2 separate regions of the Homo sapiens genome follow, and region 2 is linked to region 1. Evidence: fine-mapped expression QTL. Tissue or cell type: lung. Region 1 holds a variant in brackets; the other region holds the start of a gene. All regions are shown on one strand. Distances are from middle to middle. Region 1 overlaps TMPRSS9 (transmembrane serine protease 9). Region 2 holds the start of TMPRSS9 (transmembrane serine protease 9).

Region 1 (11,768 bases):
TCCCAAGTAGCTGGGATTATAGGCGCCCGCCACCATGCCCGGCTAATTTTTTTATTTTTAGTAGAGATGGGGTTTCACCGTGTTGGCCCGGCTGGTCTCAAACTCCTGACCTCAGGTGATCCACCCACCTCGGCCTCCCAAAGTGCTGGGATTACAGGCATGAGCCACCACACCTGGCAACAAATCTTTAACAATGGTCTGAACTTGCATCTGACTCTCCAATCATGACCTGCTGCACCGTACAATTTTGTTTTTTATTTTTTAAAACCAGGTGCATACAAAATCATGCACTGTATAATTTTATTTTTTATTTTTATTAATTTTTTTTTGAGATGGAGTCTCACTCTGTCACCCAGGCTGGAGTGCAGTAGTGCAACCTTGGCTCACTGCAACCTCCGCCTCCTGGGTTCCAGCAATTCTCCTGCCTCAGCCTCCTGAGCAGCTGGGATTACAGGCACGTGCCACCACACCCAGCTCATTTTTGTATTTTTAGTAGAGACGGGGTTTCGCCATGTTGGCCAGGCTGGTCTCGAACTCCTGATCTGAAGTGATCAGCCCACCTTGGCCTCCCAAATTGCTGGAATTACAGGCATAAGCCACCACACCCGGCCTTCCATACAATTTTATTAGAGTGTAGCATTTATCCTTGATTCTACAGTAGGGGGTTGGCCAACTACGGCCATAGGCCAAATCCAGCCCACTGCTTGTTATTTTTAATAAGTTTTATTGGTAAACAGCCACACCTATTCATTTATGTATTGTCTGTGGCTACTTTTGTGCTACAAATAACAGAGCTGAGTGCTTGTCACAGAAACCCAACGGACCACAAAGATGAAAATATTAACTGGGCACGTGGCTCACACCTATAATCCCAGCACTTTGGGAGGCCAAGGCAGGAGGATCACCTGAGGTCAGGAGTCCAAGACCAGCCCAGTACACATGGTGAAACCCCATCTCACTAAAAATACAAAAATTAGCCAGGCGTGGTGGTGCGTGCCTGTAATCCCAGCTACTCGGGAGTGAGTCGGGAGCTACTGAGGCAGGAAAATTGCTTGAACCTGGGAGGCAGAAGCTGCAGTGAGCCAAGACTTCATTATTGCACTCCAGACTGGGCAACAGAGTGAGATCCTGTCTCAAAAATAAAAAAAATGGAAAAGAAAAGAGAAGACAAGACAAGACAACACAACACAACACAACACTCTGGCTCTTTACAGAACAAGATGGCTGACCCCTTATCCACACCATTAAGGCAAAGGCAATGTCAGTTTTTACATTTGTTTGTTTGTTTGTTTTTGAAACGAAGTTTCACTCTTTTTGCCCAGGCTGGAGTGCAATGGCACGATCTCGGCTCACTGCAACCTCCGCCTCCCAGGTTGAAGCAGTTCTCCTGCCTCAGCCTCCTGTGTAGGTAGGATTACAGGTGCACACCACCACGCCCAACTGATTTTTGTATTTTTAGTACAGATGGGGTGTTGGCCAGGCTGGTCTCAAACTCCTGACCTCAGGTGATCCACCCGCCTCGGCCTCCCAAAATGCTGGGGTTGCAGGCATGAGCCACCACACCCGGCCAGTTTGTTTTCTTTTTATGGGAAGGGGTGGTTATCAAAATGTATCTTGCAGCTCCTGCCCCACTCCAGCCTCCTCGTGATGGGGTTTCGGTCTCGGCTGCCCACTCACCTGTGAGCTCAGCCGACACAATTGTGCCATAGGCAGCCAGGGAGATGCCGTGCTCCCGCAGCCTTGCCCGGATCCCTCGCTGCAATAGCTCCTCCTCCAGGCCCAGGCTCAGCGTCTGGAGGGGTCGCAGCAGAAAGTGCAGCTGGAAATGTACGAGGACACTGGAGTTCCCATCCCTACAGGTATGGAGGAGAGGCCCTTGGAGAGGGAGGGGCTCCGCCCTGCTGGAATCTTCTGGAATCTTCTAGAATCTTCCAAACTTTTCTGGACTCCTCCAGAAACTCCCAGATGTCCACCAAGTTTCCTTCACCCAATGGAAGCTCCAACTCACCTATAATTCAGTACCGAGCAACCCACGCAGCTTGCCTCTAACTCTGTCTTCTGAAAACTACTTACAAACTGCAATAGAAACAAGAATATCAAATGTTGAGACCCACAGCATGGGCACCCTGGCACTGCAGAGGCCTGTCAGGTGTTGGAGGGAGCTGGAGAAGGGGTTGGTTCCATGGGAAAGCATTTCCTTTTATTATTTTAAATTTTTATCTATATGTACGTATGTATGTATGTATGTATTGTGAGACAGAGTCTTGCTCTGTCACCCAGGCTGGAGTGCAGTAGTGCATTCTCCACTCACTGCAACCTCCGCCTCCCAGGTTCAAGCGATTCTGCTGCCTCAGCCTCCCAAGAAGCTGGGATTACAGGTGCCCGCCACCATGCCCAACTAATTTTTTGTATTTTTAGTAGAAATGGGGTTTCACTATGTTGGCCAGGCTGGTCTCGAACTCCTGACCTTGTGATCCACCTGCCTTGGTTTTCCACAGTGCTAGGATTACAGTTGTGAGCCACCACGCCCAGACTTATGTTTTATTTTTAAATTTTTTATTATTATTATTATTTTGAGACAGAGTCTTGCTCTGTCGCCTGGGGTGGAGTGCAGTGGCACGATCTCGGCTCATTGCAACTTCCGTCTCTCAGGTTCAAGCAATTCTCCTGCCTCAGCCTCCCAAGTAGCTGGGATTACAGGCACACACCACCATGCGTGGCTAATTTTTTGTATTTTTTAGTAGGGACAGGGTTTCACTATGTTGGCCAGGCTGGTCTTGAACTCCTGACCTCGTGATCCGCCCACCTCAGCCTCCCAAATTAGCTGGGCATGGTGGTGTGTGCCTGCACTCCCAGCTACTCGGGAGGCTGAGGTGGGAGGATTGCTTGAGCCCAGGAGGCGTCACAGGCGTGAGCCACCACGCCCAGCCTATTTTTAAAAATTGTTTTTTAAGATGGAGTCTCACTCGGTCACCCAGGCTGGAGTGCAATGGCACGATCTTGGCTCACTGCAACTTCTGCCTCCTGGGCTCAGGCAATCCTCCCACCTCAGCCTCCCGAGTAGCTGAGACTACAGGCACACACCACCACGCCCCGCTAATTTTTGTGTTTTTACTAATGGTGGGATTTTGTCATGTTGCTCAGGCTGGTCTCAAAACTCCTGACCTCAGGTATCCACTCTCCTCGGCCTCCCAAAGTGCTGGGATTACAGATGTGAGCCACCCACCGTGCCCGCCTGGAGTGCTGTTTTTAATACGTGATTGCTGATGTGGTCACACGTCTGTTTCTCTTCGAATAAAATGGAAAACATTATTTTTTCATTAAAATATAATTCGCTGTGTCCTGTGTCCAAGCCTGGCCCCTTTTCCTGGCTGAGTCATATTCCAGTGTGTGCATAGCCACGCTGTGTTTCCCTGTTCATCCTAGGTGGTGGGTGCCTGTAACCCTGGCTACTCAGGAGGCTGAGACAGGAGAATCGCTTGAACCCGGGAGGCAGAGGTTGCAGTGAGCCATGATCCTGCCACTGCACTCCAGCCTGGACAACAGAGCAAGACTCCGTCTCAAAAAAATAAAATAAAATACCTTCCCCCAGCTGTGCATGAGGGCTCTGATTCCCCTTTAGAATAAAATGTAAAACTCTAAATGTGGCAGGTTGGGTACGGTGACTCACGCCTGTAATCCCAGCACTTTGGGAGGCCGTGGAGGGAAGATCATTTGAGGTCAGGAGTTCAAGACCATCCTGTCCTACATGGTGAAACCCCGTCTCTACTAAAAATACAAAAATCAGCTGGACGTGGTGGCGTGCACCTGTAATCCCAGCTACTCGGGAGGCTGAGGCAGGAGAATCGCTTGAACCTGAGCAGCGGAGCTTGCAGTGAGCCGAGATCATTCCACTGCACCCCAGCCTGGGTGACAGAGTGAGACTCCGTCTCAAGAAAAAAAAGAAAAAAAAAAAAACCTCTAAATGTGGCCTAAAGTCCCATGTGAGTGTGTCCTCAGTGGATACAGCTCTGCCTTGCAGGTATCTGCCTTGGCCACCTGGCCTCGTCCTGCCCGCCCCCTGGCCTGGCCTCCCGGTCTCACAGCCTCCACCTCAGCTTCGTTGCCTGTGGCCTGCCTCCCTCCCACACGGAAAGCACCTCCAGGTCAAAGCCCCCGGCCACCCGCTCTTCCTCCCTGGCCCCCAAACACAGACCACCCTCACCAGTGCCTCCAGGGTGGGCGTCAGCGTGCGGTGATAGTCCGAGGTCTCCCGCCGCAAACTGCTGGTCCACCGGATTCCCCGCAGCTCGGCCGTGTGGTCCACGTGGAAGCCCTGTGTAGAGAGGAAGGCTGGGGACGAGACCAGGGCCCGTGAGAGAGCCCACCTTTGGGGGCTCAGGGCTCCGCTGAGCTGCCACCCAGGCCCCGCCCTGTTTGCACTCACACACCCTGGTGGTCACTCCTGACACGCAGTGGGGTGGTCGACGCCCCCGTGATAGCCCTGAATAGCTACTCACAGGGCTCTCCCTCAATTCCCAAAAGCATCCTGGTTTGGAGCCGAATTCTATGACAGCCACCCACCCGGAGGTCCCCAGGTACAGCACAAGGTGGATGAGTGCCAAGTGAGCCCCAGATGCCCCCGTGTTTTCCTCGAAGGCAGAAAGAGGTCCTGCTCATGCCTGTCTCCCATGCAGTGCCTGGCCCAGGATCTGAGCTGACTTCAGGGCGTAACCTCTGGAATGGCATCAGGAGACGGTGAAATGACAGTCCCCGCCTCCTATGGCAGGGGCATGAGCACAGCCAGAGGCCATCAGGACTCTCCGGCCACAGTCCCATGAGGTCATCTTCAAAAACCACTGGTTGGTTTGTGTTTGTTTGTTTGAGACAGAGTCTCGCTCTGTCGCCCAGGCTGGAGTGCGGTGGCGC[A/G]ATCTCGGCTCACTGCAAGCTGCGCCTCCCGGGTTCATGCCATTCTCCTGCCTCAGCCTCCCGAGTAGCTGGGACTACAGGCACCCACGACCACGCGTGGCTAATTTTTTTGTATTTTTAGTAGAGACGGGATTTCACTGTGTTAGCCAGGATGGTCTCTATCTCCTGACCTCGTGATCCGCCCTCCTCGGCCTCCCAAAGTGCTCAGATTACAGGCGTGAGCCACCACACCCGGCCTGTTTGTTTTGAGACAGAGTTTTGCTCTTGTTGCCCACACTGGAGTGCAATGGCATGATCTCGCCTCACTGTAACCTCCGCCTCCCGGGTTCAAGCAATTCTCCTGCCGCCTCAGCCTCCGGAGTAGCTGAGATTACAGGCATGCACCACCATACCCAGCTAGTACAGATGGGGTTTCTCCATGTTGGCCAGGCTGGTCTCAAACTCCCGACCTCAGATGATCCGCCAGCCTTGGCTTCCCAAAGCACTGGGATTAACAGGCATGAGCCACCGCGCCCGGCCTTGTTTGTTTTGAGATAGGGTCTCACTCTGTCACCCAGGCTGGAGTGCAGTGGTGTTTTCTCAGCTCGCTGCAACCTCCATCTCCCGGGTTCAAGCGATCCTCCTGCCTCAGCCTCCTGCCTCAACCTGCTGAGTAGCTGGGATTACAGGCGTGGACCACCACACCTGGCTAGTTTTTTTGTATTTTTAGTACAGACTGGATTTCACCATGTTGGCCAGGCTGCTCTGGAACTCCTGACCTCAGGTGATCCACCCGCCTTGGCCTCCCGAAGTGCTGAGATTACAGGCGTGAGCCACTGCACCCAGCGTTAATTTTTGTATTTTTAGCAGAGATGGGGTTTCGCCACATTGGCCAGGCTGGTCGGGAACTCCTGACCTCAGGTGATCTGCCCGCCTCAGCCTGCCAAAGTGCCGGGATGACAGGCGTGAGCCACCACGCCAGGCAGAAAGCACTGGTTTTTAGCTGTTGGCTGTGTTGTGTCCAAAGTACAAAGTACAGCAAAAATAATAGTCATAAAAAATTCCTATGCTGATGCAAGCAGCAGCAGAAAAAAATCTAAATAAAAACTACGAGAGCAACCACAGAAACCATGAGAGCACGAGTTTTGGTCAAAAATACGTTAAAACTACCAGAAGTGCACACCAGCGCAAAAAAAATGGCCGTAATTACAACATTTAAACCATGCAAATAGCAACCGCGTAAACCGTGAAAGCTGGGTCCCAATTCCGTTTATCCTAAATGGATAGATATGCTAGATGGGTATTTACGTAGCCATATATTCAGTAGATAGAATATTCTGAACCAATTCTAAAAACGGTATGTTTTCTCGTTCAAGAAACTAAAGAAACACGAGCACCCTGGTGGGCGGACTGAATTGCCCCGCCTCTGTGTCCCAACCTCACTCTGTTTCTACTCTAAACAACTGCAGATTCAGGAAGTTGCAGAAATAGTTCAGAACGCCTCCCGCTCTCCACTCAGCCTCTCATCTCCAACTAAAATGGTGAGCTGTTTGCGAAGGGCTGAATTCTCATTTTTATTTTTTTAAATGTTTTATTTTTTTGAGACAAGGTCTCTATTGTTCGGGCTTCAGTGCAGTGGCACAATCACTGCTCACTGCAGCCTCGACCTCATGGGCTCAGGTGATCCTCCTGCCTTAGCCTCCCAAGTAGCTAGACCACAGAGACCACAGGCGCCCACTATCACGCCTGGCTGGCTAGCTTTCTCTTTCCTTCTCTTTTCTTGACACAGTCTCACACTCTGTTGCCAGGCTGGGATGCAGTGGCACGATCTTGGCTCAGTGCAACCTCTGCCTCCTGGGTCCAAGCGATTCCCTTGCCTTAGCTTCCCGAGTAGCTAGGACTACAGGCACATGCCACCATGACCAACTAATGTTTTTTGTATTTTAGTAGAGACGGGGTTTCATCATGTTGGCCAGGATGGTTTCAATCTCCTGACCTCATGATCCGCCCAACCCGGCCTCCCAGAGTGCTGGGATTACAGGTGGGAGCCACCGCGCCCAGCTTTTTTTTTTTTTTTTTTTTTTTGGAGACATGGTCTCCCTTTGTTGCCCAGGTTGGAGTGCAGTGGCATGATCTCGGCTCACTGCAACCTCCACTTCCCGGGTTCAAGCAATTCTCCAACCTCAGCCTCCTGAGTAGCTGGGATTACAGGCGCGTACCAGTCTGCCCAGCTAATTTTTGTATTTTAGTAAAGACAGGGTTTCACCCATGTTGGCCAGGCTGGTCTCAAACTCCTGACCTCATGATCTACCTGCCTCAGCCTCCCAAAGTGCTGGGATTACCGGGGTGAGCTACTATGCCTGGCCCTGGCTAATTGTTTGCATTCTTTTGTAGAGACAGGGTTTCCCCATGTTACTGTGTCCGAAATTCGTGGGTTCTTGGTCTCACTGACTTCAAGAATGAAGCTGCGGATCCTCACGCTGAGTGTTACATTTCTTAAAGATGGTGTGTCCGGAGTTTGTTCTTGCTGATGTTCGGATGTGTTCGGAATTTCTTCCTTCTGGTGGGTTCGTGGTCTTGCTTGCTTCAGGAGTGACGCTGTAGACCTTCCCAGGGAGTGTTGCAGCTCTTAAGGCAGCGTGTCTGGAGTTGTTCATTCCTCCTGGTGGGTTTGTGGTTTTGCTGGCCTCAGGAGTGAAACTGCAGACCTTCACAGTGAGTGTTACAGCTCATAAAAGCATCTCACACCCAACGAGTGAGCAGCAGCAAGATTTCTCGCAGAGAATTAAAAAACAAATCCTCTACACTGTGAAAAGGTCCCCAAGCCGGTTGCCGCTGCTGGCTCCAGCAGTCCGCTTTTATTCCCTTATCTGGCCCCACCCACATCCTCCTGATTGGCCCATTTTACAGAGCGCTGATTGGTCCATTTTACAGAGAGCTGACTGGTCCGTTTTGACAGGGTGCTGATTGGTGTGTTTACAATCCCTGAGCTAGACGCAGGGTGCTGATTGGTGCATTTACAAATCTTTAGCTAGACACAAAAGTTCTCCAAGTCCCCACTAGATTAGCTAGACACAGAACACTGATTGGTGCGATTGGTGCATTTGCAAACCTTGAGCTAGACACAGGGTGCTCATTGGTGCATTTACAAACCTTTAGCTAGACTTAAAATTTCTCCAAGTCCCCACTAGATTAGCTAGACACAGAGCACTGATTGGTGTGTTTATAAACCTTGAGCTAGACACAGAGTGCTTATTGGTGCATTTACAATCCTCTAGTTAGACATAAAAGTTATCCAAGTCCCCACCAGATTAGCTAGACACAGAGTGTTCACTGGTGCATATACAATCCTCCAGCTAGACATAACAATTCTTCAAGTCCCCACTCGACTCAGGAGCCCAGCTGGCTTCGCCCGGCCCTGGCTAATTTTCTGCATTTTTTGTAGAGACAGGGTTTCACCATGTTACCAGGCTGAACTGGAACTCCTGGGCTCAAGCAATCCTCCCGTTTCAGCGTCCCAGAGAGCTGGGATTACTGGCGTGAGCCACTACGCCTGGCATCATGTCCTTTTTTCTTTTTCTTTTTTATTTTTTATCAGGGTGTCACTCTGTCTCCCAAGCTGGAGTGCAGTGGTGTGATCATAGCTCACTGCAGGCTCCAACTCCTGGGCTCAAGCAATCCTCCCACCTCAGTCTCCCGAGTAGCAGGGACTACTGGCACGCACAACCACTCATTTTCACTGAAAACATTATAAAATTTTAATTTTAAATGTTTCTTGTCTTCATTATTTAATTTTTTGTAGAGATGGGGTCTTGCTATGTTGCCTAGGTTGGTCTCGAACTCCTGAGCTCAAGCAATCCTCCTGCCTCAGCCTCCCAGAGTGCTGGGATTACAGGCAGGAGCCACCACACTTGGCCTTAAGTGCTTCTTGAAAGACTTCCTGATGGGGCGTGGTGGCTCATGTCTGTAATCCCAGCACTTTCGGAGGCCAAGGCAGGTGGATCACTTGAGGTCAGCAGTTTGAGACCATCCTGGCCAATATGGCAAAACCCTATCTCTACTAAAAATACAAAAATTAGCTCGGCGTAGTGGCACACACCTGTAATCTCAGCTACCCAGGAGGCTGAGGCAGGAGAATCGCTTGAACCTGGGTGGTGGAGGTTGTGATGAGCTGAGATTGTGCCACTGCACTCTGTCGCGCCTGGGAGACAGAGTGAGACTCCATCTCAAAAAAAAAAAAAAAGACTTCCTTTCCTTTCAGGGGGGTCCTGATGGGAATTATATTTATCTGTTTTTCCCAAAATGTATTTGTTACAATGCAGATGAGAAACTCTGCCCCGCCCCTGCCTCTCACTAGGTGATGGACACACACACACACACACGCATGCACACATAGATACACACGCAGACACACACATGCATGCACAAACGCATGCAAATGAACACGTGTGCACCATGCACACACTCATGAACACACAAATACACTCACACGAGGAACCCAAATTGTATTGTACTTGGTACCTACAGCCACTAGAGGGCCTCAGTCAAACATGTCTGGCTCTGGGAGTTTCCAGAAGTTCCACAAATATTTTTTAAAAAAAAGAAAAAAGAAAAAAAAAAACCTAGGAGGATTCTCATAGGATCGCGAACTTACTATTTTGCCACACGAGAGCATTTCTCCCCAAATTGCTGTTTATTATCATCATTTAAATGTTAAAATTAACTTTTTTTTTTTTTTTTTTTTTTGAGATGGAATTGCTCTGTTGCCCAGGCTGGACTGCAAGGGCATGATCTCGGCTCACTGCAATCTCTGCCTCCTCCTGGGCTCAAGCAATTCTCCTGCCTCAGCCTCCCAAGTAGCTGGGATAACAGGCGTGCACCACCATGCTCAGCTATCTTCCTTCCTTCCTGCCTACCTGCCTGCCTGCCTCCCTCCCTCCCTCCCTCCCTTTCTTTCTTTCTTTCTTTCTTGTATTTTTAGTAGAGATGGGGTTTCACCATGTTGGTCAGGGTGGTCTCGAACTCCTGACCTCATGATCTGCTCACTTCAGCCTCCCAAAAAGTTGAGATTACAGGTATGAGCCACTGCACCCGGCCTTATTTTAAATTTATTATTATGTTTTTATTTTTTGAGATAGAGTCTCACTCTGTCACCCAGGCTGGAGTGCAGTGGTGCGATCTCAGCTCACTGCAACCTCTGCCTCCCAGGTTCAAGCGATTCTCCTGCCTCAGCCTCCTGAGTAGCTGGGACTGCAGGTGCCACCACGCCTGGGTAATTTTTTGTATTTTCTGTAGAGGCAGGGCTTTATCATGTTGCCTAGGCTGTTCTCAAACTCCTGGGCTCCGATGGTCCTCCCGCCTCAGCCTCCCAAAGTGCTGGGATTACAGGCGGGAGCCACCACGCCCAACCCAGTTGCTCGGTTTTATAAAAATACTTTTGGGGCCGGGCGCGGTGGCTCATGCCTGTAATCCCAGCACTTTGGGAGGCTGAGGCGGGCGGATCATGAGGTCAGGAGATCGAGACCATCCTGGCTAACACGGTGAAACCCCGTCTCTACTAAAAATACAAAAAATTAGCCGGGGGTGGTGGCGGGCGCCTGTAGTCCCAGCTACTCGGGGAGGCTGACACAGGAGAACGGTGTGAACCCGGGAGGTGGAGCTTGCAGTGAGCCGAGATATCACACCACTGCACTCCAGCCTGGGCGACAGAGAGAGACTCCGTCTCAAAAAAAAAAAAAAACAAAAAAAAAAACTACTTTGGGTATTTTGCTGATTTGCCAAAATTTAAAACAAGGTCATTTCCCTGTCTCTGTTTCTCTGTCACCCCAGCTGTGAAAACTTCCTTCGGGAGCTTCTTTAGTCGGGAAAACTGACACACGTAGGAACTCATCTGCTCCACTCCCCGCCCACCCGCCTGGCCTAGGGCAGCCTTCATCTCCACGCCTAGACACTGCCCTTTGATTCCAGATGGCCAAGGAGACACCATCAAGTCACTTCCCGGTGACTTTGCACATGTCCCTTGTATTGCGAACCCAGCCAATCCCATAGCCACTTACCCAAAAGGACTCCCAGGGTGAGGACGACAAGGCTGGTGGCCACCACGCCAATGCTGGCCGCTCGACAGCACGCGGCATCCAGAGCGGGGACTTCCTTGGTTGTCCTGGGCACGAGGTGTACGTCAGCCACAGTGGGCTCCATGGCTCAGAGACACGCAGACAGCGAGCTGGATGCCACACAGCAAGACAGAAACACGGGGTCAGAGGCTGAAGGTGCTTCTCTTCCCATAAGCAAGGGTTGCAACTATACCCTTAAAAACGGCGGGGCGCGGTGGCTCACGCCTGTCATCCCAGCACTTTGGGAGGCTGAGGCAGGAGGACGATTTGAGGTCGGGAATTCCAGATCAGCCCGGCCAACATGGAGAAACCCCATCTCTACTAAAAATCCAAAATTAGCCAGGCATGTTGGTGCACACCTGTAATCCAGCTACCCAGGAGGCTGAGGCAGGAGAATCGCTTGAACCCGGGAGGCGGAGGCTGCAGTGAACCGAGATCACGCTACTGCACTCCAGCCCGGGTGACAGAGCGAGACTCCAAAAAAAAAAAAAAAAAAGACCAGATGCGGTGGCTTATGCCTGTAATCCCAGCACTTTGGGAGGCCAAGGTGGGTGAATCACTTGAGGTCAAGAGTTTGAGACCAGCCTGGCCAACATGGTGAAACCCCATCTCTACTAAAAATACAAAAAATTAGTCAGGCGTGGTGGTGGGCGCCTGTAATCCCAGCTACTCGGGAGGCTGAGGCAGGAGAATCGCTTGAACCCGGGAGGCGGAGGTTGCAGGGAGCTGAGATCACGCCACTGCACTCCAGCCTGGCGACAGAGCAAG
Region 2 (11,768 bases), 34 kb after region 1:
CCATTCTCCTGCCTCCGCCTCCTGAGTAGCTGGGACTACAGGTGCCCGCCACCACGCCCGGCTAATTTTTTGTATTTTTAGTAGAGGTGGGGTTTCATCGTGTTAGCCAGGATGGTCTTGATCTCCTGACCTTGTGATCTGCCCTCCTCAGCCTCCCAAAGTGCTGGGATTACAGGCGTGAGCCACCGCACCCAGCCCCTGGCCCATGTCTTAACTGCAACCTCATGAGAGACCATGGGCCAGAACCACCCAGATAAATCACTCCCAAATCCTTGGCCCACAGAAACTGTGACAGAATAAATGTCTGTTGTTTTAATTGGCTAAATTTGAGAGACATTTGTTATGCAGTAACCAAAAACTAATACACAGGACGGCAGGTCCCAGGGCTCTTCTGTCTGGTGTTCCTTATTTACTTTTTTGGTTTTTGAGATAGGGTTTCACTCTGTCACCCAGGCTGGAGTGCACTGATGCTATCACAGCTCACTGAAGCCTCAACCTCCTGGACTCAAGCAATCCTCCCACCTCGGCCGCCTGAGTAGCTAGGACTACAGGTGTGCACCACCACACCCGGCTAATTTTTTAAATTTTTGGTAGAGACAGGGTCTCACTCTCTGCTTTTAATGGCCAATGTTTTCTAGTTGCTCAAAACCATGGTTCAACCTCTCCAAGGAGAAATTCAGGGGGTTCCCTTTTTTTCCAAGCAGTTTCAATAAAACCCAAAGGTTCACCTCAGCTTCATTCTTGAGCTTCTAAATTTCTTCTCTTCTCTTTCTCCATCTCTTTTTTAAAATTATTTATTTATTTATTTTGAGACAGAATCTCACTCTATCACCCAGGCTGGAGTGCAGTGGTGTTATCACAGCTCACTGCAGCCTCCAACTCCTGGGTTGAAGCAATCCTCCCACCTCAGCTTCCTAAATAGTTGGGGCTATGGGTGCACACCACCATGCCTGGCTCATTTTTTTAGTTTTTGTACAGATGGGGTCTTGCTATGTTGCCCAGCTGGTCTCAACTTCCTGTGCTCAAGTGATCCTCCTGCCTCAGCCTCCCAAATAGCTGGGACTACAAGCCTGCACCATCATGCCCCCAGCCTCGGTCTGGGCTCTTTAGCTGTCTTGCCCACCTGTCTGTGTAGTTTTTTTGTTTTTTTTGTTTGTTTGTTTGTTTTTTCCTTCACCTAATCCAAGATGATCACAGTTTTCGGACACGTCCATCCCATTCGATTCCGCATCTTTGGTCCCACGGCAGCCAAAGCCCGTTTATAGAACAGACAGCTGTTGTCTACGCCATGGCCTCTCTTATTTCTTCCTGTCCCCTGTCCTCAGGCCTGAATCTAGTCAGGAAATCCTCCCCTCCTCCATCGCCCCAACATCATGAAATAAATCACTCAGCAAGCCTACAGGAAATTTAATAAGCTTGGTCTCCTTTTTTTTTTCATTTTGTCTATGGTCTTTTTGTTAGGCTTTCATGGGAAGAGGTGTTTGTGAGAAAACTATTTGCAGCAATGGTATCTTGTGTTCTTTTAGCTTTATAATGTGGACAGAGGAGAAAGGAGTCAGTAATCGTGTGGGAGGGAAGACGCCGATAAACATGAGTGATACTAAGGGACCCAGAGGAAAACGCAGAGATTAAAAAATAACCTTCCAATCACTTATGAGTTGTATCATTTAAAATTAATACAGCTCCTAAATGCAATGTGGGATCCTGGATTGCAACGTAGAACAGAAATATTGGTGGGAAGACAGAGTGTGGCACCCACAGTCGTGCGTCAGTTTTGCTCTTTTTTTTTTTTTTGAGATGGAGTCTCGCTCCGTCGCCCAGGCTGGAGTGCAGTGGCGCGATCCTGGCTCACTGCAAGCTCTGCCTCCCGGGTTCACGCCATTCTCCTGCTTCAGCCTCCCGAGATTACAGGCGCCCGCCACCAGGCCCGGCTAATTTTTTTTGTATTTTTAGTAGAGATGGGGTTTCAGCGTGTTAGCCAGGATGGTCTCGATCTCCTGACCTCATGATCGGCCCGCCTCAGCCTCCCAAAGTGCTGGGATTACAGGCGTGAGCCACCGTTCCCGGCCCAGTTTTGCTCTTTGTTCTGTGGTCAAAGGTGTCAACGCAAGGGGACACTGGGTGGAAGGTGGGTGTGCGGGGACTCTCTGCACCATCTTCACAACTAAAATTATCCCCCCCAATTTTTTTTTTCATAAAGGTAAAGTGTAAACAAAACAACAAAGGGCTGGGTGCCGTGGCTCCCGCCTGTAATCTCAGCACTTTGGGAGGCCAAGGTGGGAGGATTCCTTGAGCCCAGGAATTCAAGACCAGCCTGATCAACATAGTGAGATCCCATCTCTGCAAAACAACAACAACAAAGGAAGCCTTATGCAGTTATGAGTGGATCACCCAGAATATGTTATCCTCTGCATCCATTTCAGAGCAACACACAGAAACATCAATGGCTTAGAACAGCCTGCAGGGCTGCGTCAACCATCAACTTCAATAAAACCCCAAGGTTCGCCTCAGCTTCATTCTTGGGCTTCTAAATTTCTTCTATTTATGCGTCTTTCATTCATTCATTCATTCATTCATTCACTTATTTATTTGAGACAGGGTCTCACTCCGTCACCCAGGCTGGAGTGCAGTGGTGTGATCACAGTTCACTGCAGCCTCCAACTCCCGGGCTCAAGCGATCCTCCCATCTCAGCCTCCTGAGTAGCTGGGACTACAGGTGCTGGGTCTACAGGACTACCGGGAGGCTGAGATGTGCTTATACCAACAGCGTCCTGTTGGTGTAGGGCTCATAGGCTTATGAGAGTTGATCCAGCCCTCCCAATAATCCCAGGGTATACAGGAGACAGGTCCAGCTAATATCAGCATGCCCATTTACAGAGGAGGAGATTAAGGCTCTCTCTGCCTCTCCCTCCCTCCCTCCCTCCCACTCTCACTCTCTCTCTCTCTCTCACACACACACGCGCGCACGCACACACACACACACTCACACACAGAGTTCTTGGAATTCTAGTGACTCCTCCACATTGCTGGGCAGCTTCCCTGTTATGCTCCCCGAGAACCCTGCTCCCCAGCTAAGCCAGGTGAGCCTGGGGGACCGAGGGGCGCAGGGCCGGGAGCTCTAAACCCTGCCCCAGTGTCGGCACCCAGGGTCCAGTCCTGCCTCCCCAAGCACCAGCTCCATCACCCACAGTTGCACGCACAGATGCACGGGGAATCACGCGACCTCACTCCCTCCCACACTCTCGCCTGTCCCCCCACCCCCCCACAACTGCTCCTACCTCAAATCTCCACCCATGTGTCTGCCATCAGAGAAGGGACGCCTTTGCCTTCATTCCGCCCTCACCTGCGATCCATCTACCATGCCTCCACGTCTCCGCAAAGCCCTTAACCAACCACAGTGACAACAGGGTTTGAACTCCGATGCTCCAGCGTTCCTGCAAGCTCTCGCCCCGCGGACAGAGTCCCCAGCCTGGGCAACCGGCCACCAACACCTTTTGCCTAAGGACTCTCCAAGCTCCGTATTTTACACCCTAAACATTCCAAATTCTGCAAAGGGAATTTTAGACAGTCCAAGAATGCTCTTTAGGGACGGGACCCAGCGCGCAGTGGGCCACATGGTCCCCAACTCACGTTCACACGCTGTGGGCAGCGGGGCACACACGGACTCCCATTCCGCGTGGCAGGACAAGCAGGCGGCGTGAGGCTCTGCAGGGCCCAATTACCCCACGGTCAGGCCAGCCTGAGCGCTGGGACCCTGATCCCCATGCCCCAGATGAGAAGACTAGGAAGAGGGGATTTGCACACACAACCACAACCTCACACAACACACACACAACACACAACCACACACAACACATTACCACACACAACCTCACACAACCAAACACAACCACACATTACAACCTCACACAACCACACACCACAACCACACACACCCTCACAAAACACACCTCACACAACCACATACAACCACACACAACCTCACTCCACCATCCACAAATTATACACAATCTCATCATGCAAGTACACACACAACCACGTTACAACTCCACAAATCTCACATACAATGACCATACAGCTAAACACAACTTCACACATATAGTCATACACTGATACAATCACAACTCCACCATACACAGTCATACAGACACGATTACACATATTGCCACAATCATATGCAATCACACACAAACACAATTATACAACCATACACAACCACACAAAGCCATCCACAAAATCATGCAATTCTCATCATGCAATCACACACACAACCGTACACTATAACCACACAGCTGCAGAAACCTCCCATACAACACACAACCATACACGGTCTCACACATGCAGTCACACACCCATACACACAATTACACCTCCACCACAATCACAGGCACAATGACACACATGGCTGCACAGTCACACAATCTCGCACAACCACACACAATCCTATACAATCACACAAACATCATGACATAACTATACGCAACCACACATGACCACACAACTATACACACAGTTATACAGCCATCGACACACAACCATATACGATCCCACCCGACCACACAATTACACAACCATACACAATCACGCATGACATGACACATGACCACACACAACCATACACAATCACACAATTACACAACATAAACGATCACTCATGACCCCACACACACATATAATACACAATCACACACAAATCACATGGCCATATGCAGCTACAGACACAATTATATATATTGCCACACACAACCACACATCACACACAATCACATGATCACACACAATCACACACAGCCACACAGACAACTCACCCAGAATCTCACACAGCCCCACCCAGCCAGGCCCCCAGGAAGGCGTCAGGAAGCCAGGACCACAGGTGTCCTGCGGGGCATCCCTGATCTGCAAGGCGGTGGCCACCACGCGGCCCACAAGGTGTTTCCGGCCATGCAGTCCTGCGGGGCAGTGCCTGAACCCTTTGGCAAGTCCCCAAAACCTCTGGCAACCTCTGGAGCCCATGCCTGGGTCCGAGGCCTGGTTTGACCCCCTATAAAATGACGGAAGGAAGTCGAAGGTCCCTGGGCCACAGAGGACCCTCGAGCACGGACGCCTGTCCTGGGGACCCCGCCCTAATTCCCAGAATGTGGGTCATTCCCGGTCATGCGGGGATAACGCCACGGTCCCCAGCCTGGGTTTCCTGCCGGGGCTAATTGAATCCAGGAGGACCCTCCCTCAGGCAAATACCAACAACCCACCCCATCTCAGGCCCTTCACCCACCTCCAATTGTTACATCCCAGTGTGTGTTTACTCAGAAGCGGCTCCGAGGGTGAGAACTGGGGCGGGAGGAGAGGCTCCAGTCAGATGCCTGGCACCCACTCCAGCCCCGCCTCCCACCCCAGCCCCCCCTCCCACCCCAGACTCACCTCCCACCCCATCCCAGCCCCGCACCCCACCCCACCAACCCATCCCAGCCCTGCACCCCACCAACCCATCCCAGCACCCCACCCCATCCCAACCCTGCACCCTACCCCAGCCCCACCTCCCACCCCAGCCTCCCACCCCAGCCCCACCTCCCACCCCAGCCTCCCACCCCAGCCCCGCACCACACCCCAGACTCACCTCCCACCCCAGCCCTGCACCCCATCCCAGTAGCTGTCAGCCCCTTTCCCGCCACCCCTGACCCCAGAGGGCTCCAGGCTGATGCTTGGTTCTTGCTTTAGGTGAAGTTCACGGGTAGAAAAGAAGGGAGGACTCTGGGTGGGAACAGGGATGGGGAGGGCTTCGGCGGTCCCAGGCCCCTCCAGGAACTAGGCCGAATCTACACACCCCAGCTGTATCTACACATCTCAGCTGCATCCACACAATCCCGGCTACGTCCACACACCCTGGCGGCATCTACCCAGCCTGGCCTCGTCTAGAAATCTCAGCCACATCTACACACGCTAGATACATCCACACAATCCCGGCTGCGTCCACACAACCCTACGTGCATCTACACACCACACCTGAGTCCACACAACCCCGGCCGCATCCACACGCCACACCTGCGTCCACATAACCCCCGCCGCATCTACACACCACACCTGCGTCCACACAACCCCTGCCGCATCTACACGCCGCACCTGCGTCCACACAACCCCGGCCACATCTACACGCGGCACCTGAGTCCACACAACCCTGGCCGCATCTACACAACCTGGCCATGTCTACACACCCCAGTGGCGTCCACACAGCCCCGGCTGCCTCTCCACAACCCCGGTGGTGTCTACACAGCCTGGCTGCATCTACACACTCCCGCCACGCCACCTCTACACAGCCCCAGAGGCAACCAAACAGCCCCGGGGCTTGGCGAATGGGGTTGGAGGAAGTGGGGGCTGTTCCGAGGGGAGGCTGAGCCCGCAGGAGACCCCGACTCACCGGGGTTGGAGGAAGTGGGGGCTGTTCCGAGGGGAGGCTGAGCCCGCAGGAGACCCCGACTCACCGCGCTCCGGACGACGAGGCTGCACCGCTACTGCCCGGATCCCGCCCACCCCGAAGTGGAGCAGAAGCCGGAGCTGGGCCCGGGGCTGGAGGAAGGGAGGGGCGGGGCGGGGCCGGGTGGGGGAGCCGCCCCTCCCCCGGCCCCCTGCCAAGCCCCTTCCCCAGTACCTCCTGCTCCGGGCCGGGGGTGCCGCCCAGGCTTGGAGTCTCCGGAGGACAGGGGTCCCAGGGCTCTGCCACCTCCACCCTGGATTCCCAACCCTGGCGGGAGCCAACCCAGAGTGGAAGACGATGGAGATGGGGAGGGGTTGGGGGTAGCCAGGGATGGGAGTGGGCTTCGCAGCTGGGAGCCATGGGGTGGGGGTTGCCCGCAGAGTGGGCGCTGTGGGCAGGTGGGCCCACCTGGGCAGGTGACTCAGGACAGGGCGCAGGGAGGGGTGTGCCCAGGACAGCCCTGGGGGCGAGGTGCTGAGGGCGTTTTCTAGGGCACTGGTGTAACCATTTTGTGTGTGTGTGTGTGTGTGTGTGTGTGTGTGTGTTTTGAGACAGGGTCTCATTCTCTGTCGCCCAGGCTGGATTGCAGTGGCGCGATCTTAGCTCACTGCAGCCTTGACCTCCCGGGCTCAGGTGATCCTCCCACCTCAGAGTCTGGAGTAGCTGAGACTACAGCCGCCTGCCACCACACCAGGCTAATTTTTGTATTTTTAGTAGAGATGGGGGTCTCACCATGTTGCCCGGGAAGGAACTACAGTATTTTTAATATAAATTTTTAATTTTTTAAAAAAATAGAGATGGGGTCTTGCCATGTTGCCCAGGCTGGTCTCGAACTCCTGGGCTCAAGCCATCCTCCCACCTCGACCTCCCAAAGCGCTGGGATTACAGGAGTCAGCAACGTGCCCAGCCTAAACGTTTTAGAAGAGTTTTAGATTCCCACAAAATGTGCAAAGACAGTTCAGAACTCCCCTGTGCGCCACATCCCGGGTCCCCTGTTACTGGCATCCAGGCCAGTGTGATACATTTGTCACAACCAATGAACAACTATTGATGCACGACTGTGAAGTCCACACTTGATTCCAGTTTCCTCAGTTTCCCCCAATGCCCTTTCCTGCTCAGGGCCCCACCCGAGATCCCACGTGGCATTTAGGCGTCACGCCTCCTCGGATCTCTCTGGGCTGTCGCAGTTTCCCAGACATTCCTATTTCTGACACCCTGCCCGCTCCTGGGGAAGGCAGGTCAGGTGTTTTGCAGGACACGCCTCAAGTGGGTTTGTCTGGTGCTTTTCTCCCTCATGGTCAGACTGGGTGGCCTCAGTTTTGACGCGCCACCCGCTGCCACGCTGGCCGCCCCTCCTGCTTAGGTCACCAGGTTGTTCACGTTCCTCCGTGCCGTCGAAGGAGACGGTGCACTTCGTTAGAACCACTGTCTCCTCTCTTATCTCAAGAGACTTTGCGGAAATTTTTTTTGGAACTGCCTTTAGAGACCAGCCCCATTTTATTACCTTTGGCAGAGCGTCTTTGTTGGTGATTTGCTTTTGAGAAGTGCCGCAAGTCCCGGGGAGCCACGCCTGGTGCTGGAGGGAGAGCAGTCCTGGAGGATCCAGCTCCTGGGTCCACGTTTCCCCAGTCGCCCGCAGAATGGTCCAGTCTACTGAGTATGTGCTGTGTGCCCGGCACTCGGCAGGGACTCCCCTAGGTTCTCATGATGGCCTCACAAAAGTAGCTGTCACCTCCTTTTAAGCAGAAGAAGTGGCTACAGCCCTGAGAGCCAGTCATCCAGCTCCTGGGATTCAAGCTGGGGCTCCACACCCAGGGCCTCCTATTGCTGCATTCTTCTGCCCACCCTCCTGTCAGGCTGCAGGCTGCGGTTGGTTCCCAAGAGGCATTTCTAACCTGCTCTGAGCCGTGTGGAGAAGAGCCTGTGACCCCATGGGAACCCCCTCCTCTCTTCCTCAGGGCCATTGGTGGACTCTTTCCAGAACTCCACCCTCTCACCTTCTGATGACTTCCCACCTGGCCCCAAACACTGAGTCCCGGTTCCTCGTGCAGCTATAGCAGCTCTCTGCCTGGGCCAGACGGGGTGCTTAGTAGAGGACCTGGCACACAGCAGTGAAGAGTGGTGGGTGGATGAGTGTGTGTGGATGGGTGGATGGGTGGTTGGGTGGATGGAGGGATGGATGGATGGATGGACAGACGGACGGTAAATGGGTGAATGGATAGATGGGTGTGTGTGTGGATAAATGGATAGATGGGTGTGTGTGTGGATAAATGGATAGATGGGTGTGTGTGTGGATGGGTGGGTGAGTGGGTGGATGAATGGATGAGTGGATGGGTGGATGGATGGATGGATGGGTGGGTGAGTAGACAGGTGGATAGATGGGTAAATGGATGAGTGGGTGGGTGGGTGGAAGGTGGGTGGATGGATGGTTGAATGGAAGGGCAAATGGATGGATGGGTGGGTGGGTAGATGGATGGATGGGTGGGTGGGCAGATGGATGGATGGGTGGAGGGGTAAATAATGGGTGGATGGATGGGCAAATGGATGGATGAGTGGAGGGGTGGGTAGATGGATGAATGGCTAGATGGGCAGGTAGATGGATGGATGGATTGGTGGGTGGGTGGATAGGTGGATGGATGGATAAATGGGTGGGTGGGTGGATGAATGAATGGGTAGATGGGTGGATGGGTGGATAGATGGGTGAGTGGGTGGTTGAATGGATGGATGAATGGATGGATGGATGGATGGATGGATGGATGGATGGATGGATAGATGGATGAATGGGTGTGTGGATGGGTGGGTGTGTGGGTGAGTGGATGGTTGGGTGTGTAGATGGATGGATGGATGGATGGATGGATGGATGGATGGATGGATGGATGGATGAATAGATGTGTGAATGGGTAAATGGATGGACAAATGGATGGTGGATCAATGGATGGAGACGGATGGGTGGATAAGTAGGTGGATGGGTGTGTGGATGGGTGGCTGGATGGATGGATATGTGGATAAGTGGATGGGTGGTTGGATAACTGGGTGGATGGGTATGTGGATAGGTGGATGGATGGTTGGATAAATGGATAGGTGTGTGGATGGGTGGGTGGGTGGGCGGGTGGATGGACGGATAGATGGATGGGTGTGTGGATGGATGTTGGATAAATGGATGGGTGGATAGATGAATGAGTGGATGGATGGGTAGATAAATGGATGAGTGGGTGGATAGGTGAATGGGTGGATGAATGGGTGGATAAATGGGTGGATGGGTGTGTGGATAGATGGTTGGATAAATGAGTGGATGGAGGGTATGTGTATGGACGGATGGATAACTGAACAGACAGGTGGGTGAATGGGTGGGTGTGTGGATGAACAGATGGATAAATGTGTGGACAGATGGTTGCATAAATGGGTGGGTGGGTGGGTGGATGGATGCATGGACGGATGGATGGATGGACAGACGGACGGACGGATGGATGGATGGTTACATAAATGGGTGGGTGGGTGGATGGATGGATGGGTGGATGGCCAGTTGGATAAATGGATGGATAGGTGGGTGGATAAAAAATGTGTAAGCTCTGGTCAGCTTAGTGAAAGAAAATCACTATTGTTACCATATTGCTCCACTTTGTAACTTAAACTGCAAGACAGAGGGATGCTCCCCACGAAAAGAAACAAAATACCCTCCCCAGTGCCAACAAGCAGCCTGTTTCCATTTCCCCAGCTCTACCTCTCCCTGACATCCCTGGACCGTGTGTGACCTGGACAGTCGAGGTGTGCACACCCCCCGGAGCTCAGGCACCGGCTGAGCCTGGCAGGAGCCCGTCTTCCTGAATCAAGTGTGTCACTAGCACAAAAGTCCCGACTGCTTCTAAGCGTCCAATCAGATGGCTGATTTGGTGACATCCTGGCTGTCGTGCCTTGCAGTAGGTACATTACTAACCCTCTTTCCAGAGGACAGGGAGTTGGAGGCAGAGGGACTTGCCCACGACCGCAGGTGGTCACAGGTGGACGTGGTGTGAGCCCAGGGCTCTGTGCGCTGAGTCCTGACTGTAACTTTCAGCCCTGAGGCTCAGGTCCACCGGAGCTAATGACATAGCGACTTTTTCTTTTCCTGGACAGGACAAATCACCACTAGAGGCACACAGGGGAGGTGTTCAGAGCCAGCGCCGAGTGGCCTCCGAGCAGTGAGCTCCCCCGTGGAAAGGCAATTGGGGGTGCTCCTTCTGGAGCGTATCGAGGAACTGCTCAAGTTAAAAAACCGAAACCTAAGTGTGACTTCAAGTATTCTGGAATTCGCTTTCCGTGATTAAGCCGTCCCTTCCCCAGTGGGTTTGAATTCAGGTTTGCTGTGAGTGGTAAGGCCTGAGCCTCCATCTCCCGCTGCGTCCTCACCCTGTTCCACATTAAGGCCAAGGGCGTCACGCTGCCAGGCAGTCGTGGTTTGGCTCAGGGCCTGGAGGAATCCATGTCTCTGATCCCTCACAGCCATGTGGCCTCAGAGGCTTGCTGGTGGCCTTTTTTTTTTTTGGAGACAAGGTCTCGCTCTGTTACCCAGGCTGGAGTGCAGTGGTGCGATCACAGTTCACTGCAGCCTTGACCTCCTGGGCTCAAGTAATTCTCCCACCCCAGCCTCCTGAACAGCTGGGACTACAGGTGTGTGCCACCACACCCAGGTAATTTGTGTAGAAATGGGGTCTTGCTACGTTGCCCAGGCTGGTCTTAAACTCCCAGGCTCAAGCAATCCTCCCACCTCAGCCTCCCAAAGCACTGGGGTTACAGGCGTGAGCCACCATGCCCAGCCTGGGTCTCACTTTCTCTAACGTAGCGGAGAACTTTGTGAGACTAGAACAACACACACAGCAGCCCCTGATGCCTGGCAGATGCTCAGGACTCACTGGCCTCTCGGCCCGCACACAAACCCGCATCCATCACCCACGTGCCCACAGGCCCAGCGCCAGCCAGCAGCAGCTGGAAACCAAACCTTGTCCCAAAGCGGCTAAGACAGGTCTTTGCATTTTTAAAGAGAAAAAAATAATAATAAACTCTTTTGAGACGTGAGGATGCTATACAATTCCAATTTCAGGGTCTGGCGAGAAAATTACTTGAGGGATGGGCGTGGTGGCTCGTGCCTGTAATTGCAGCGCTTTGGGAGGCCGAGACAGGAGGATTGTCTGAGCTCAGCAGTTCGAGATCAGCCTCAGCAACACTGCAAGACCCCATCTCTATTTTAATTTTGTAAAAGGTATTTTGGCCCATTTTACACATGGTCTGTGATGCTTTCCAGCAACAGTGGCAGAGCTGAGAA

Evidence for each region.
Region 2: TMPRSS9 starts here. The variant in region 1 is fine-mapped to the expression of TMPRSS9 in lung (TOPMed, PIP 0.94).

What each region holds. Positions count from the first base shown.
Region 1 is chr19:2,389,103-2,400,870 of GRCh38, reverse strand. It overlaps TMPRSS9 (transmembrane serine protease 9), which reads right to left. Exons shown (of 19, transcript NM_001395513.1): 2 at 10,944-11,110; 3 at 4,205-4,332; 4 at 2,009-2,076; 5 at 1,678-1,853. The coding sequence starts at 11,085. Among named protein-coding and RNA genes, the nearest start is that of TIMM13, 33 kb to the left of the region's middle. RefSeq lists an enhancer at 6,408-6,497. The variant A/G (reference allele first, on the strand shown) is at 4,909.
Region 2 is chr19:2,355,005-2,366,772 of GRCh38, reverse strand. TMPRSS9 (transmembrane serine protease 9) reads right to left here and starts at 6,508. Exons shown (of 19, transcript NM_001395513.1): 1 at 6,413-6,508. It overlaps SPPL2B (signal peptide peptidase like 2B), which reads right to left. Exons shown (of 15, transcript NM_152988.3): 15 at 11,678-11,768. RefSeq lists a silencer at 7,978-8,189.